Linked DNA regions of Homo sapiens. Changing the gene in region 3 together with the main gene of any one other region gives a genetic interaction. Each region holds a gene or a part of one and is shown on either strand. Other genes may lie near its edges.

Evidence for each region.
Region 1: changes in PPP4C (region 3) and EGFR together harm fitness more than expected from each alone (negative genetic interaction), as found in Homo sapiens cells (one large-scale study listed by BioGRID).
Region 2: changes in PPP4C (region 3) and RIT1 together harm fitness more than expected from each alone (negative genetic interaction), as found in Homo sapiens cells (one large-scale study listed by BioGRID).
Region 4: of PPP4C (region 3) and ATG7, changing one suppresses a phenotype caused by changing the other (phenotypic suppression), as found in Homo sapiens cells (one large-scale study listed by BioGRID).

The regions. Positions count from the first base shown.
Region 1 is NC_000007.14:55,022,017-55,025,516, forward strand, and holds part of EGFR (epidermal growth factor receptor isoform a precursor), read left to right. Parts: intron 1-3,500. UniProt on the Homo sapiens protein: Receptor tyrosine kinase binding ligands of the EGF family and activating several signaling cascades to convert extracellular cues into appropriate cellular responses.
Region 2 is NC_000001.11:155,901,350-155,904,849, forward strand, and holds part of RIT1 (GTP-binding protein Rit1), read right to left. Parts: intron 3,456-3,500; coding exon 3,382-3,455; intron 3,154-3,381; coding exon 2,962-3,153; intron 1-2,961.
Region 3 is NC_000016.10:30,078,994-30,082,434, reverse strand, and holds part of PPP4C (serine/threonine-protein phosphatase 4 catalytic subunit), read right to left. Parts: intron 1,236-3,441; exon of another isoform or gene 1,177-1,235; coding exon 1,125-1,176; intron 1-1,124. UniProt on the Homo sapiens protein: Protein phosphatase that is involved in many processes such as microtubule organization at centrosomes, maturation of spliceosomal snRNPs, apoptosis, DNA repair, tumor necrosis factor (TNF)-alpha signaling, activation of c-Jun N-terminal kinase MAPK8, regulation of histone acetylation, DNA damage checkpoint signaling, NF-kappa-B activation and cell migration.
Region 4 is NC_000003.12:11,359,397-11,362,896, reverse strand, and holds part of ATG7 (ubiquitin-like modifier-activating enzyme ATG7), read right to left. Parts: intron 2,317-3,500; coding exon 2,113-2,316; intron 85-2,112; coding exon 1-84. UniProt on the Homo sapiens protein: E1-like activating enzyme involved in the 2 ubiquitin-like systems required for cytoplasm to vacuole transport (Cvt) and autophagy.

The sequences.
Region 1 (3,500 bases), on a different chromosome or scaffold from region 3:
GCAAGGGGAAAGGGCCCAGGGAGCCGGCTCATGACGATGAGCCTGTCTGAAGCTTCAACGCGGGCTGTCCGGCAGTCTGCATTCCTGCCGAGTTCCTCAGCCCTCTGTTGGGTCACCTTCCATAGAGGCAGCTTAGTCCTCAGTTCAGTGAGCATGGAGTGGAGACTGCTTGAGGGGTGCTGAGCAAAGCCCTGCCTCTTACAGGATGAAGGTGCTCTCCAGAAGGGACACTGGAAAGTATTCCAAGGCGAGTCGAATTCCCAACTGAGGGAGCTTTGTGGAAATAAGCCCGCCCAGCCCCACTTCTGGAGACGTTCCCATTCAGTAGGTCCGAGCTGTCTTAAAGAGAAACCAAAGTGGGGATATTAATGGTATCCAAAGTGAGATCTACCCCACCCTCCCTCCTCAAAGGAGGTCAGATCAAGAAAGCCCAAGCCCGGCCTGGCAATTGGGACCTTTCTTCTCACTCCAGCCCAGGGTGAAGGTGGACAAGTCACTTTGACCCTTCAGGCTTCTGAGCTGTTGTTTCTGAATTCAGTGAATATTTACTGAGTGCATAGAATATGCTAGATATTCTGGGCTAAAGGTTGAAGGGGGGGTGAGTTTTAAGGGTTTCTGCTCTTGCTTCCAGATTGCTTTCAAATCTGGAAAGGACACCAGTGGTTTGTGTGTTAGACCCACACTGCCGTAGCACAGAATACAAGAAACTGGCTGAGAGCTCCAATAGGCTTTTAACAGTAATTTCTGGCTTCACGTATTTAGTTTCATAACTCATGATTTTTCAAAAACTTCTGGTTTGAAGACACCGATTGCCGAAAGTCCATTGTGCTGCATAATTACACTTGGTCCACGTGACAGCACTAACATGTTCTGAAATGTTTTTAGAAGTAGTCTCAGCAAAGATGAAGGATTCCTCCCTGTTTGAAAAGAAAATATTCTTTGTTTTTTCTTTGATCTAAGCTCTAAGACTAGCAGCTAGCATCTGAAACTTTTTTGACGAGAGTGACAAACCAACTCTAATATTAAAGGCAATTGATGATTATGGGCACTGAAGGGAAGGTAACCCCAGGCTGGTGCCCCGGAATAGGGATGGGTCACAATGTTGAGGACATTTCGCCTGTTGCAGAACCCACCTGCAACACAGTGTGGCCCTTGCCATGTGACTTGTGTGTGTGCCTGTGTGTCTGTGTGTGCGTGTTTTAATTTTGACTTCATAAGTACTCTAGTTATGAGCTTATTTAACATTGGGTTTTACTAATAGGGGTATGTGTTGAGAAAATTTCAAAGTTTTAGAATATGGTTCACCCACATGTTGCTTCCCTGTAAATATAATTTTTAAAACCAGATTCTGGGCCGGGCATGGTGGCTCACCTCTATAATCCCAAAACGTTGGGAGGCCGAGGCAGGCGAATCATGAAGCCAGGAGTTTGAGACCAGGCTGACCAACACGGTGAAACCCAGTCTCTACTAAAAATACAAAAAAAATTAGCTGGGCGTGGTGGCAGGTGCCTGTAATCCCAGCTACTCAGGAGGCTGAGGCAGGAGAATTGCTTGAACCCAGGAGGCAGAGGTTGCAGTGAGCCAAGATCGCACCATTGCACTCCAGCCCGCGCGACAGTGTGAGACTCCATCTCAAAAAAAAAAAAAAAAAAACAGATTCTGTTCCTCAGATCCATTCCATTTTTGTTTTCCTTTATCACTTATGGACATTTGAAATTATGGTAATAAACATTGTTAGTCTCAGTTAATTATTACTGGTTTATTCTTGAACCACTAATCCATAGAGAATAGAGTGTAAATCTTAACTTGTTCCTGTAGGCCATCCCCATTAAACATCATAGTGTTTTCTCATTCGTTCTTTTTCGTTTTCCTCCTACAGGAATGAATTTTCTAAGAAAATTCCAGCAGTTGGCTCTTTGGACGACATCTCTAGATTGTCCTCCATTGGGCCCATAGGCACAAGCTGGCCAGTTTGAATTTGGGCAAGAATCCAGGCATTGGAACTTATTCAAATAACTAGTTTGCCTGTAATTTTCACTTTTTCAGAGTCATCTGATAAAGCTTTCTTGCTACACATTTAGATAGATACACTCAATCCAGTTGTCTAGAAAGTTCCCTGAGCCAGCTGGGAGCAGGAGGGGTAGTTGGGGCCAGGAATATTGGGGGTGTGTTTACTGAGCCCCTAGAAAGTAAGTGCTAGATTTGACATTTCAATCCCTGAAGGCCCTGAAGTTCAGTATCAAATGACTGGTCCTGTGGACTGAGCATCTGTGAATTGCATATGCTTAGAGTAAATTTTACTCCTACCAGTTTCAGCAGCTTGCTTTAGCAAGCAGTATGGAAACACTAACATGGGGGAGTAGAATTTCTCTCTCTGATCCAAGTTTTATCTCATTCTGGTGGGTTTTCAAGGAGAGACTCGGAGTCCAAGTGTCCTTTCTGAATATATCTGGAACTTCTCATTAACAAAAGACTCAAGTTATAATTTAGGGGACAAGGCACCCAATGAGAATGCCTTGCAGGCAGCCCTAAGTACACCTGCAATTACACCATTACTAGCGCGGCAGCACACATGGCCCTGACTTAGTTTAAATAATTACGTAAGTCAACCATGATTGTTTGCCCTTTGCATAGAAGGGCAAGTATTGGTACCTGTTACAACTTAGGCTTTTTTTTCTTTATGTTTGAGCCATGATGAGTGATTTACACTGTTGCATCCATATGTTGAGATGTAAGAATAAATTAGACTTGGTAATTGCCCTTAAGTGTCTGGAAGTCAACTGGGGAAAGAGAGCTAGAGATAATAAGTGTGAAACAATGTCACAGAATCAATGACGGAACTCTTCCCAGGACAAAGGATGACTTTTGAGTTCAGTCTTTGCCTTTAATTCTACATGGGGAGGAGAGCACGTTTAGCCACAAATGGAAGGGATTACTCATTTGAGCTATTTGGTTATATGATTATTTCCCCAGAGAATAGGATGTGCAGGGCATTACACAAGCAGTGCCAATAGCAGCAAAGTTCTTGAGAGTGCTAGTAATTCAAATGGCAGGAAGAGAAGGAATAAATGGTAAGGCTACCTACAGTTCACAGAGAGCTCCATCCTCACTGTGGCTTTGGATTTTGTCCTGTGTGAAAGAGAAGTGACTGTGAACTGACATGCTGTGTTTGGTGTTTTAGAAAGATGGCTGCAGCAGCGGTTTGGGGAATGGACTGCAGGAGTGGCATTGGAAACAGGAAGGTTCATGACTATTGCCAGAGACAGAGGATGAAGCAGGAGCAAGGAAGATTCAGGACAGGGGACTCCGGGGCTGATCAGGAGGCAGAACTGGTTGATAAGTATATGTAGCAGCATAAGAAAGAAAGAATCCCAGATTGACACCCAGGCTTCTCACTTGGAAGCCTGGATAGATACTGAATGCAATCACAAAGGCTGGGAAGTCAATGGGACTGCAGGGAAGGGAAGGGAAGGGAGGAGAAGAGGAAGGGCAGGAGGGTC
Region 2 (3,500 bases), on a different chromosome or scaffold from region 3:
ATTTAGCTGGGGCCAGGAGCGGTGGCTCACGCCTGTAATCCCAACACTTTGGGAGGCTGAGGCAGGTGGATCACTTGAGGTCTGGGGTTCGAGACCAACCTGGTCAACATGGCAAAACCCTGTCTCCACTTAAAAAAAACTAGCTGGGCATGGTGTTGGGCACCTGTAATCCCAGTTACTCGTGAGGCTGAGGCAGGAGAATCGCTTAAACCTGGGAGGCGGAGGTTACAGTGAGCCAAGATCGCGGCACTGCACTCCAGGTGTCACACTCCAGCCTGGGTGACAGAGCCAGACTCTGTCTCAAAAAAAGAAAAAAAAATTAGTTGGATGTGGTGGTATACACCTGTGGTCCCAGCTACTCAGGAGGCTAAGGTAAGAGGATCACTTGAGCCCAGGAGGTCAAGGCTGCGGTAAGCCATGTTTGCGCCACTGCACTCCAGCCTCAGTGACAGAGCAAGACCCTGTCTCAAGAAAAAAAAAAGTTGGGTGCGGTGGCTCATGCCTGTAATCCCAGCACTTTGGGAGGCTGAAGCAGGCAGGCAGATCACCTGAGGTCAGGAGTTCAAGACCAGCATGGCCAACACGGTGAAACCCCATCTCTACTAAAATAAGAAAGAAACACTAAACAATACAACCATGAAACTGATCACCGGGATTGCAAATCTAATTGGGAAAAGAGTTGAGCAAACAGCTTGGACTGTTTGGAGTTGTTGCCTTACTTTTTAATATGTATTTATAAAGTATTCCAGCAAAAGAGGATGTAGCCTCTGGGAAAAAACAAACATGTTACAGTGTTTTTTGTAGATTCTCGTTCTATATCTCATCACAGTGCCAGCCCTGTTTTTAGCCGGAAAGGATTCAGGAGAAACATTATTATGCATTCTGAACTGGATGCATATTCCTAACTACTGTATTTGTTACCAAAAGTGGTTCTACAAATGCTACTGAAAAAAATCTGGAAATTCCTAATGTCCTGAGTATTAATAATAAAGTTTAAAAATGCTTTTATATCAAAAAAAAAAAAAAGAAAAGAAAAATTAGCTGGGCATGGTGGCAGGCGCCTGTAATCCCAGCTACTTGGGAGGCTGAGGCAGGAGAATTGCTTGAACCCAGGAGGCAGAGGTTGCAGTGAGCCAACATCATGCCACTGCACTCCAGCCTGGGTGATAAGAGTGAAACTCTGTCTAAAAAACAACACAAAACAAAAAAACGCTGGGTGTGGTGGCTCACATCTATAATCCCAGCACTTTGGGAGGCCAAGGTAGGTGGATCACCTGATGTCAGGACTTCAAGACCAGCCCGGCCAACATGGTGAAACCCCGTCTCTACTAAAATACAAAAATTAGCTGGATGTGGTGGCAGGCACATGTAATCCTAGCTACTCAGGAGGCTGAGGCAGGAGAATCGCTTGAACTCAGGAGTCAGAGAGGTTGCAGTGAGCCTAGATTGCGCCACTGCACTCCAGCCTGGGCAACAGAGTGAGACTCTGTCTCAAAACAACAAAATTAAAATAAAAATTAAAAAAAAAGAAAGCTGGGCGCGGTGGCTCACGCCTGTAATCCCAGCACTTTGGGAGGCCGAGGTGGGAAGATCATGAGGTCAGGAGTTTGAGACCAGCCTGACCAACATGGTGAAACCCCGTCTCTACTTAAAAATACAAAAATTAGGCCGGGCGCGGTGGCTCATGCCTGTAATCCCAGCACTTTGGGAGGCCGAGGCAGGCTGATCACGAGGTCAGGAGATCGAGACCATCCTGGCTAACACGGTGAAACCCCATCTCACTAAAAATACAAAAAATTAGCCAGGCATGGTGGCGGACACCTGTAGTCCCAGCTACTCGGGAGGCTGAGGCAGAAGAATGGCATGAACCTGGGAGGCAGAGCTTGCAGTGAGCAGAGATCGTGCCACTGCACGCCAGCCTGGGCGACAGACAAGACTCCGTCTCAAAAAAAAATTAGCCGGGCGTGGTGGCATGCGCCTGTAATCCCAGCTACTCAGGAGGCTAAGGCAGGAGACTCACTTGAACCCAGGAGGAGGAGGTTGCAGTGAGCCGAGATTGTGCCACTGCACTCCAGCCAAGGCAACAGAGTGAGACTCTGTCTCAAAAAAAAAAAAAAAAAAAAAAGAAAGAAACACAAAGGGAGGGAAAGAGATATATGCTTACACTAAAATATTGAAAACTATTAGGAGCCCATAATTGATACATCTAATTATGGATATGCCATAATTTCTACTTTTGGACAGCTAGATTGTTTCTCATTTTCTTCTACCATAAATAGTCTTGCAATGAACATGTTATATATAAATCCCTATAAATTTTTTCCAATGGAGATTAACAGAGAAGCATTATGAATTTGACTACTATCAAACTACTTCCAGCCAGGCGCTGTGGCTCACACTTGTAATCCCAACACTTTGGGAGGCCAAGGCAGGAGGATCACTTGAGTCCAGGTGTTCAAGATCAGCCTGGGCAACATAGTGAGATCCTGTCTCCACAAAAAGTAAAAACAATTAGCTGGGAGTGGTGGCACACGCCTGTGGTCCCAGCTACCCTCAAAGCTGAACTGGGATGATTGCTTGAGCTGGGGAGGTAGAGGCTGCAGTAAGCTGTAGCCCCAACCTCACTGCAACCTCCACCTCCCCAGGTCAAGGGATCCTCCCACCTCAGCCTCCCAACTAGCTGGGACCACATGTGCATGCACCACTATGCCCAGCTATGTTTTTTTGTATTTTTTGTAGAGATGGGGTTTCGCCATGTTGCTCAGGCTGGTCTCAAACTCCTGACCTTAAGCAACCTGCCCACCTTGGCCCCGCAAAGTACTGGTGTGAGCCACCTCACCCAGCCTGATTTTCTATTTTAAGGCAAAAAAATCTGTAAGCCAAGCCAAGAATCTGTAAGCCAAGAAACAAAAATGACTAATTGTATAAGATTATAGACAGTATTTTCTTCTCTATCCTCACCTGTCTTAGCTGTTTGAGGTCTGACTTGTTTCCCACAAGAACCACAGGTGTATCGTCAGTACGTCGGACTCGATAAATAAGCTGTTTAAACTCACGAACTTCATGGAAACTTCGACGATCCGTGATAGAGTAACAGATGATAAACCCTTCTCCTGCCCTCATATACTGGTCCCGCATGGCTGTAAACTCTGCCTAGAGGGAAACAAGGGTCATTATGTATTGACGCAATCTAGCCCAACTACACACACAATTAGCTATTTCTTTCAGATTAAAGAAAACGCATGTCGATTACCTGCTATCCTGAGTCAGAGTGCATGAAAAATTAAGAGAGATAAACTATTGATCTTCTCTGTGTAGGCCTTCCCCTCCCCTTTGCTAGAGTAAAAAAGCCTTTACTCATAACATTCTGGGATTTAATACCTGTCCAGCTGTATCCAAAATGTCCAGATTGGCAGGCTCATCATCAATACGGATCCTGATCTTATAAGCATCTTCTACAGGAGGGAAGAAAGGTGTACTATAAAGTCATAAATGCCGGA
Region 3 (3,441 bases):
GGGACTACCCTCCAAACACCCGCTGCTTTAGTGAGCTTTATCACTCTTGGCTGCACTTCTACTTCCTAGGACCAAAATTCTCCTCTCCCACCCCAAGTCAGTCTGGTCTGGAACCATACCCACTGTCCTATGCTGAGTACCAACTATTCTGTAGGCAAGAGCTAGAACTAAGTCCTTCCAGGTAGATGTCCCGGCCCCTTCCTCTCTCTACTCCCCACAAAGTACCCAGAATCAAGTTACTAACACAGAGCCCTGGAGATATGTGAGCAGAATCACTCGCCAAATAGGAGTCCTTCTGCCCTGGCCAAGAATCTCCACTAACAAATCCAAAGTCCCTTCCCATAACCCCTTTCTTTTCTTTCCTTTCTTTTTTTTTTTTTTAGACGGAGTCTCACTCTGTCGCCTAGCCTGGAGTGCGGTGGCGCGATCTCGGCTCACTGCAAGCTCCGCCTCCTGGGTTCACGTCATTCTCCTGCCTCAGCCTCCCGAGTAGCTGGGACTACAGGTGTCCACCACCACACCTGGCTAATTTTTTTGTATTTTTAGTAGAGATGGGGTTTCACCATGTTAGCCAGGATGGTCTCGATCTCCTGACCTCATGATCCACCTGCCTCGGCCTCCCAAAGTGCTGGGATTACAGGCGTGAGCCGCCGCGCCCGGCCTGTTTTTTTTGTTTTTTTTTGTTTTTTTTTGAGACGGAGTCTCCCTCTGTCACCCAGGCTGGAGTGCAGTGGCCTGATCTCAGCTCACTGCAATCTCCAACTCTGGGGTTCAAGCGATTCTCCTGCCTCAGCCTCCCAAGTAGCTGGGATTACAGGCACGTGCCACCACGCGTGGCTAATTTTTGTATTTTTAGTAGAAACGGTTTCACCATGTTGGCCAGGCTGGTCTCGAACTCCTAACCTCAAGTGATGTGCCCACCTTGCCCTCCCAAAATGCTGGGATCACAGGTGTGAGCCAACGTGCACAGCAACCCCCACTTCTTTTAGCAGTGCTCCGTTGAAGGTGAGGGAAAGGACAGATAAAAGAGCTTAGGGTTGGGCTTATAGAGCCCCCAAGATGAAGAGGAAACTTCATGTGCCTGAAAGACCAGGCCTGGCTCTGCAGGGACAGCAGGTACTCACTGTGACTGGCGAGTCCACCCTCTGCACGTTGCTCTCCTCTACCAAGATCTCTCTGGAGACAGGAGAAGACCAGGGTCACCACAGCCAGGCCAGCCCAGCCCAATTCCTGACCTTTTTTGGGGGGAGGGGAGGATATGAGGCAGTCCTGGAAGCTCCAGGGGGCAGGAGTGAAGCGTACAGTCTCCCCAAAACAGGCTGACCACGGCCCTTCAGCATGCAACACCCTTCCGTGGCCCCCTGCTGCCAAAAGGACAAAGTCCAACCTCTTATCCCAGCGTTCCAGGCCTTCTGAGCAGGCTGGGACTTTTCCAGCCCTGACTCCCCCTGCCGCTCCCTCTTCCGCATCCAGGACTCACTCCTGGGAGGCGGGTCTCCCCATCCTCTCCACAGCAGAGCTTAAGTCACCCTTGGCCAATCACAGAGCCCTTCTCCCAGGCTATCCAGACACAAGGGTAGGTGCCCAGGGCAGGCCCACAGTGGATGCGCCTTCAAAGTGATGCGCTCTTGGCCAGGTGCGGTGGCTCATGCCTGTAATCCCAGCACTTTGGGATGCCAGGGTGGGCAGATCACGAGGTCAGGAGTTTGAGACCAGCCTGACTAACATGGTGAAACCCTGTCTCTACTAAATATACAAAAATTAGCCAGGCGTGGTGGCGCGTGCCTGTAATCCCAGCTACTTGGGAGGCTGAGGCAGGAGAATCGCTTGAACCTGGGAGGTGGGGGCTGCAGTGAGCTAAGATCGCGCCACTGCACTCCAGCCTGGGCGACAGAGCAAGACTTCATCTCAAAAAAAAAAAAAAAAAAGTGAGGTGCTCTTGCCATGTGTTCAGTATTTCTTTATGACTATGAGGACTTAAATATTTTTTATTTCTCCTTGCAGTGCAGTCTACTTCTACTTGAGTGAGCAGGAGATGAAATCACTTTGCCAGGTAAGACACCCAATTTTTTTTTTTTTTTTTTTTTTTTGAGACAGAGTCTGGCTCCATTGCCCAGTCTGGAGTGCAGTGGCGCCATCTTTGCTCACTGCAAACCTCTGCTTCCTGGGTCAAGTGATTCTCCTGCCTCAACCTCCCGAGTAGCTGGGATTAGAAGCATGTACCACCACGCCCAGCTAATTTTTGTATTTTTAGTAGAGTCGAGATTTCACTATGTTGCCCAGGCTGGTCTCGAACTCCTGACCTCAAGTGATCTACCCACCTTTGCCTCCCAAAGTGCTGGGATTACAGATGTGAGCCACTGCACCCAGCCTATAGATACCCAATTTAAGCAACACTGTATTTCCAAATTTTGCCTGGTAATAGCAGCAGTGAACATTCGAGCTCATACTGTGTGCCACAAATGTTATTAAGAGCTTGGCAGGCAGGTACTATGATGATTCCCGGTACACAGATGAAGAAATTGAAGCAGGGAAGGAGGCTGGCTTGGTGCCAGTGACACAGGTGGGATATGAACCAGGGAAGCCTGGCTCTGGGGTCTGACTCTTTATCAAGATATTCTGATGTGGGAGGCCCAACTCGCCTGGCCCCCCTCTTTCTGCCAATCTCTTCCCTTAGAATGAGTTTCCTGAGCTCAGTGGACAGGAGGATTCACTTATGCCCCTTGCTCTGTATGGCAGAGGCAGCACGAAGGAGGTCTGCCCTGGCTTTCTGGGAACAGAAGGCAGCACTGGCGGTGGTCCAAGAGGCCACATCAGTACCCGGACTCTCCCACCTGCACTGCTTCTTGTGCTGAACATCCTTCCCCATCAACTGCTCATAGTGACCTTTCCAACAGACTGGGGAGGTTCTCTTCAGCCTCACGTAACAGTAAAGAAACCGAAGCTAGGCCGGGCGCGGTGGCTCATGCCTGTAATCCCAGCACTTTGGGAAGCCAAGGCAGGCAGATCATGAGGTCAAGAGATTGAGACCATCCTGGCCAACATGGTGAAACCCCGTCTCTAGTAAATATACAAAAATTAGCTGGGCATGGTGGCGCGTGCCTGTAATCCCAGCTACTTGGGAGGCTGAGGTAGGAGAATCACTTGAACCTAGGAGGTGGAGGTTGCAGTGAGCCAAGATCAGGCCACTGGCACTCCAGCCTGGGCAACAACAGCAAAACTCTGTCTCAAAAAAAAAAAAAAAGAAAAAAAGAAACCAAAGCTTACAGAAAAGCGGGAGGGTCAAGGTCACCAAGCTGGAGAGTGGCTAAATTGGAACCCAGAAGCCCAATTTCCTGAGAATTTATGCCAGCCCCTTCCACAGACCCTGAGTGAAAACCTGAAGCCCAGGGAGGTCACATGCAGGGCCCGTGCTCTCTGCAAAGCCCCCCTCAGTGCCAG
Region 4 (3,500 bases), on a different chromosome or scaffold from region 3:
TTCCACGGCCAGGGCTCCTGCAATCACGGCCAGTCCTGGACGACTCACAGTGCACTGCTGGTCCAAGGTCCGGTCTCTGGTTGACTGCAAAGAAACAATCATTGGTGTGTGCAGAACGTTCTACTCCATTCAACTCTAGCTGTCTCAAGTATGAAATCCTCTGTGACAAAGCTTTAAATTATAACCAGATGCTCATTGTTGGCAAAGAACATCCAGCCTCAAGTACATCATTTCTTGAGATTATCAAGATAAACAAAATATACAATTTAGGTAACTAAATGAGGTGATATGCTAAAAAGGATCAGTAGCCTAAACAGATTGGGGGATATTAACCAAAAATGAGGGCTTAGCTGCCTCATATAATGGAACTGCATCATGTGTTCCTTTAAGTGACTCAATTCAGTTCTACTGTGCTTGGTAGTTAAGTGACAGAGACACAGAAAGGAACAATGATTTGAAAAGTGCAAATGATTCTGCCCTGCCATTTTAACTGAGCTAACACCTCAAAGTGACCGTGAGATGGGAGCAACAATTTACTATTCCTGCGGCCCTCAGTTCCTATGTGCCTCTCACAACATGGGCATCACCTCTCTGTGTGATTCTAGGGTTTACTACAAGTATTTTTTTTTTCTACAACATGGCTCTAAGCACAAGCCTTTGCTGGTTCAACCAAAGAGAGTCTAACCATCCAACTCTGGGCAAATTAAGAGGTTGTTAGAGATATTTTTGACTCTATAAAAATTTTACCTTATGAGCAGATGGGACTTTACTGCAAGGGACCACTAATCGTATTTGTTGACAATCACTAAATAACAAGACCAGCTATATATTATAACACCATAACAGAGATCATCAAGCCATCTTTCTCCATAAAAGAGAATGGTCATCTTCTTTTCTTTATATTGGGAGGGCATAAAAGCCAGTCATCCAAAAGAGATATGAGTTATTAAGGGAAAAGTTTTAAAACAAAGGAAAAATAGAGGGGAGGTTACAGAAAACATCTCTGCATTGTTTCACTGGAAATCGTTATCTGTTCTGATAAAGGAACAGACCTACATACAGACTGACTTGTGTGGAGTTCTGAAAGTCATAGAATCTTAATTTGTACAGTGTAGTCTTGCTGTTCAAAGCACTGTCGCACTTGACCCACTTTGCACTGTGAGTTGACAGGGCAGGTATTCTTCCCTCCTCTATTAGCATTGCTAGGGAGAATACAAGACACTCAGTTAAATTTGAATTTCAGATAAATAAATTTTTAGTATAAGTGGGTCTTGAATATTGCATGGGACATATACCAAAAAATTATTCATTATTGGCTAAGCGTGGTGGCTCACACCTGTAATCCCAGCACTTTGGGAGACTGAGGCAGGTGGATCACGAGGTCAGGAGTTCGAGACCAGCCAGACCAACATGGTGAAACCCCGTCTCTACTAAAAATACAAAAATTAGCTGGGCATGGTGGCACACACCTGTAATCTCAGCTACTCAGGAGGCTGAGGCAGGAGAATCACTTGAACCCAGGAGGCAGAGGTTGCAGGGAGCCGAGATTGTGCCACTGCACTCGAGCCTGGGTGACAGGGCGAAACTCTGTCTCAAAAAAAAAAAAAAAAGAATTCATTATTAACTGAAATTCAAAGTTAGCTGGGAATCCTATATTTTTACTTACTAAATCTGACAAGCCTACACATCACTCCTATTTTGCAAAGGTAGAGGGAACCTAAGAGACTTTTTAGAACTACCTGGGAGGCAGTGTCAAGCCATTGATGGAATCTGGTCTTTAGACTCCTGATTTGTAATGTTATCTTGACTAAGAGAAGCACCGGAGACAATACGGAGTGCTATCAGGGACTAGTCTGCTGTGGTTTCCTCAATAAGCTTTCCAAAAATATGGTTTGTAGCCGCGTTTATATTGGTGAACAAGGAACAGGTGTACAGTTGATGACGCCAGTCAAGGTTCATAATGAGATAATGCCATCCTCCCCAAATTGGAGAATTCTTCTCTTTGTTAAAAGATAATATTTAAATAGTCATAAATGAAAGGGCCAAGTCGGTCTGCCTCAGTGTACAAGTTGGTGATAGGAAATATTTGGAACTATAGAGAAATCCACTTACATCTCCTGGGGCCACCACATCATTGCAGAAGTAGCAGCCAAGCTTGTAACCAGGGATGTTGGCAAAAAGCGATGAGCCCAGGAGGTCAGCAGATGCCACAGGGTGGTTTGGACACAAGTCCCCAGCTCCTTGCTGCTTTGGTTTCTTCAGACCATGTCTCATGACAACAAATGTGTCAAATCCCAAAGCAGCATTGATGACCAGCTGCAGGTTTCAAGGAATGAAAGAGCAGAGTTAAAAGACACATATATTTCAAGCTGTGGCTAATTCCATATTTGCTCAACTTTTTAAAATTTATTTTTTGCATGTAAGTGTAATTAGATTATAAAAGCTAATGATGATAAAATCTACCCACTACTGAGGGCTTATTAATTACAAAAGACTTGATAAGTGATGAACATAAATTATCTCATTTAATTTCATTTGAAACTCATAACAGACCAGGTATAGTGGCTCATAACCTGTAATCCCAGCACTTTGGGAGGCCAAGGCGGGCAGACTGTCTGAGGTCAGGAGTTCGAGACCAGCCTGGCAACATGACGAAACCCTGTCTCTATTAAAAATACAAAAAATTAGCCGAGCATGATGGCTTGCGCCAGTAGTCGCAGCTACTCAGGAGGCAGAGGCATGAGAAATGCTTGAACCTGGGAGATGGAGTTTGCAGTGAGCCGAGATTCCGCCACTGCACTCCAGCCTGGGTGACAGAGCAAGATTCTATCTCTGAAAAAGAAAAAAGCAAACAAAAAAACTCATAACAAACATTTCTTATTTATAGATGAGGATACTGAAAGTCAGAGAAGTTAGTTCTATAACTTGCCCAAGGTCACTTATCTGGCAAGAGGTAGGTATATAAAACCAAGTCTACATAGTTCTCAAACACATTCTTTCCACCATTATGCTATACTGTCATGTTCACATAGATTTGTTTTTATAACAGCTTTATTGAGATATAACTCACATACCATATAATTCACCCTTCACATAGAATTTTTTTGGTATCCCAGTAGCTGGAATTACAGGCACATGCCACCATGCCTGGCTCCGCATAGTTGGTTTTTTTTTGTTTTTTTGTTTCTTTGGGGTTTTTTTGAGACAGGATCTCACTCCGTTGCCCAGGCTGGAATGCAATGGCGTGATCTCGGTTCACTGCAGCCTCAACCTCCCAGGCTCAAGTGATCTTCCTGCCTCACCCTCCTGAGTAGCTGGGAGCACGGGTGTGCATCACCACACCTAGCTAATTTTTTGTTTTTCTTCTAGAGAGAGAGTCTCACCATGTTGCCCAGGCTAGTCTCAAACTCCTGGGTCAAGCAATCCTCCCAAAGTGCTAGGATACAGATGTGAGCCACCATGTCCAGCCCAACACATAAATTTTTAAGAAACCGTTTTTT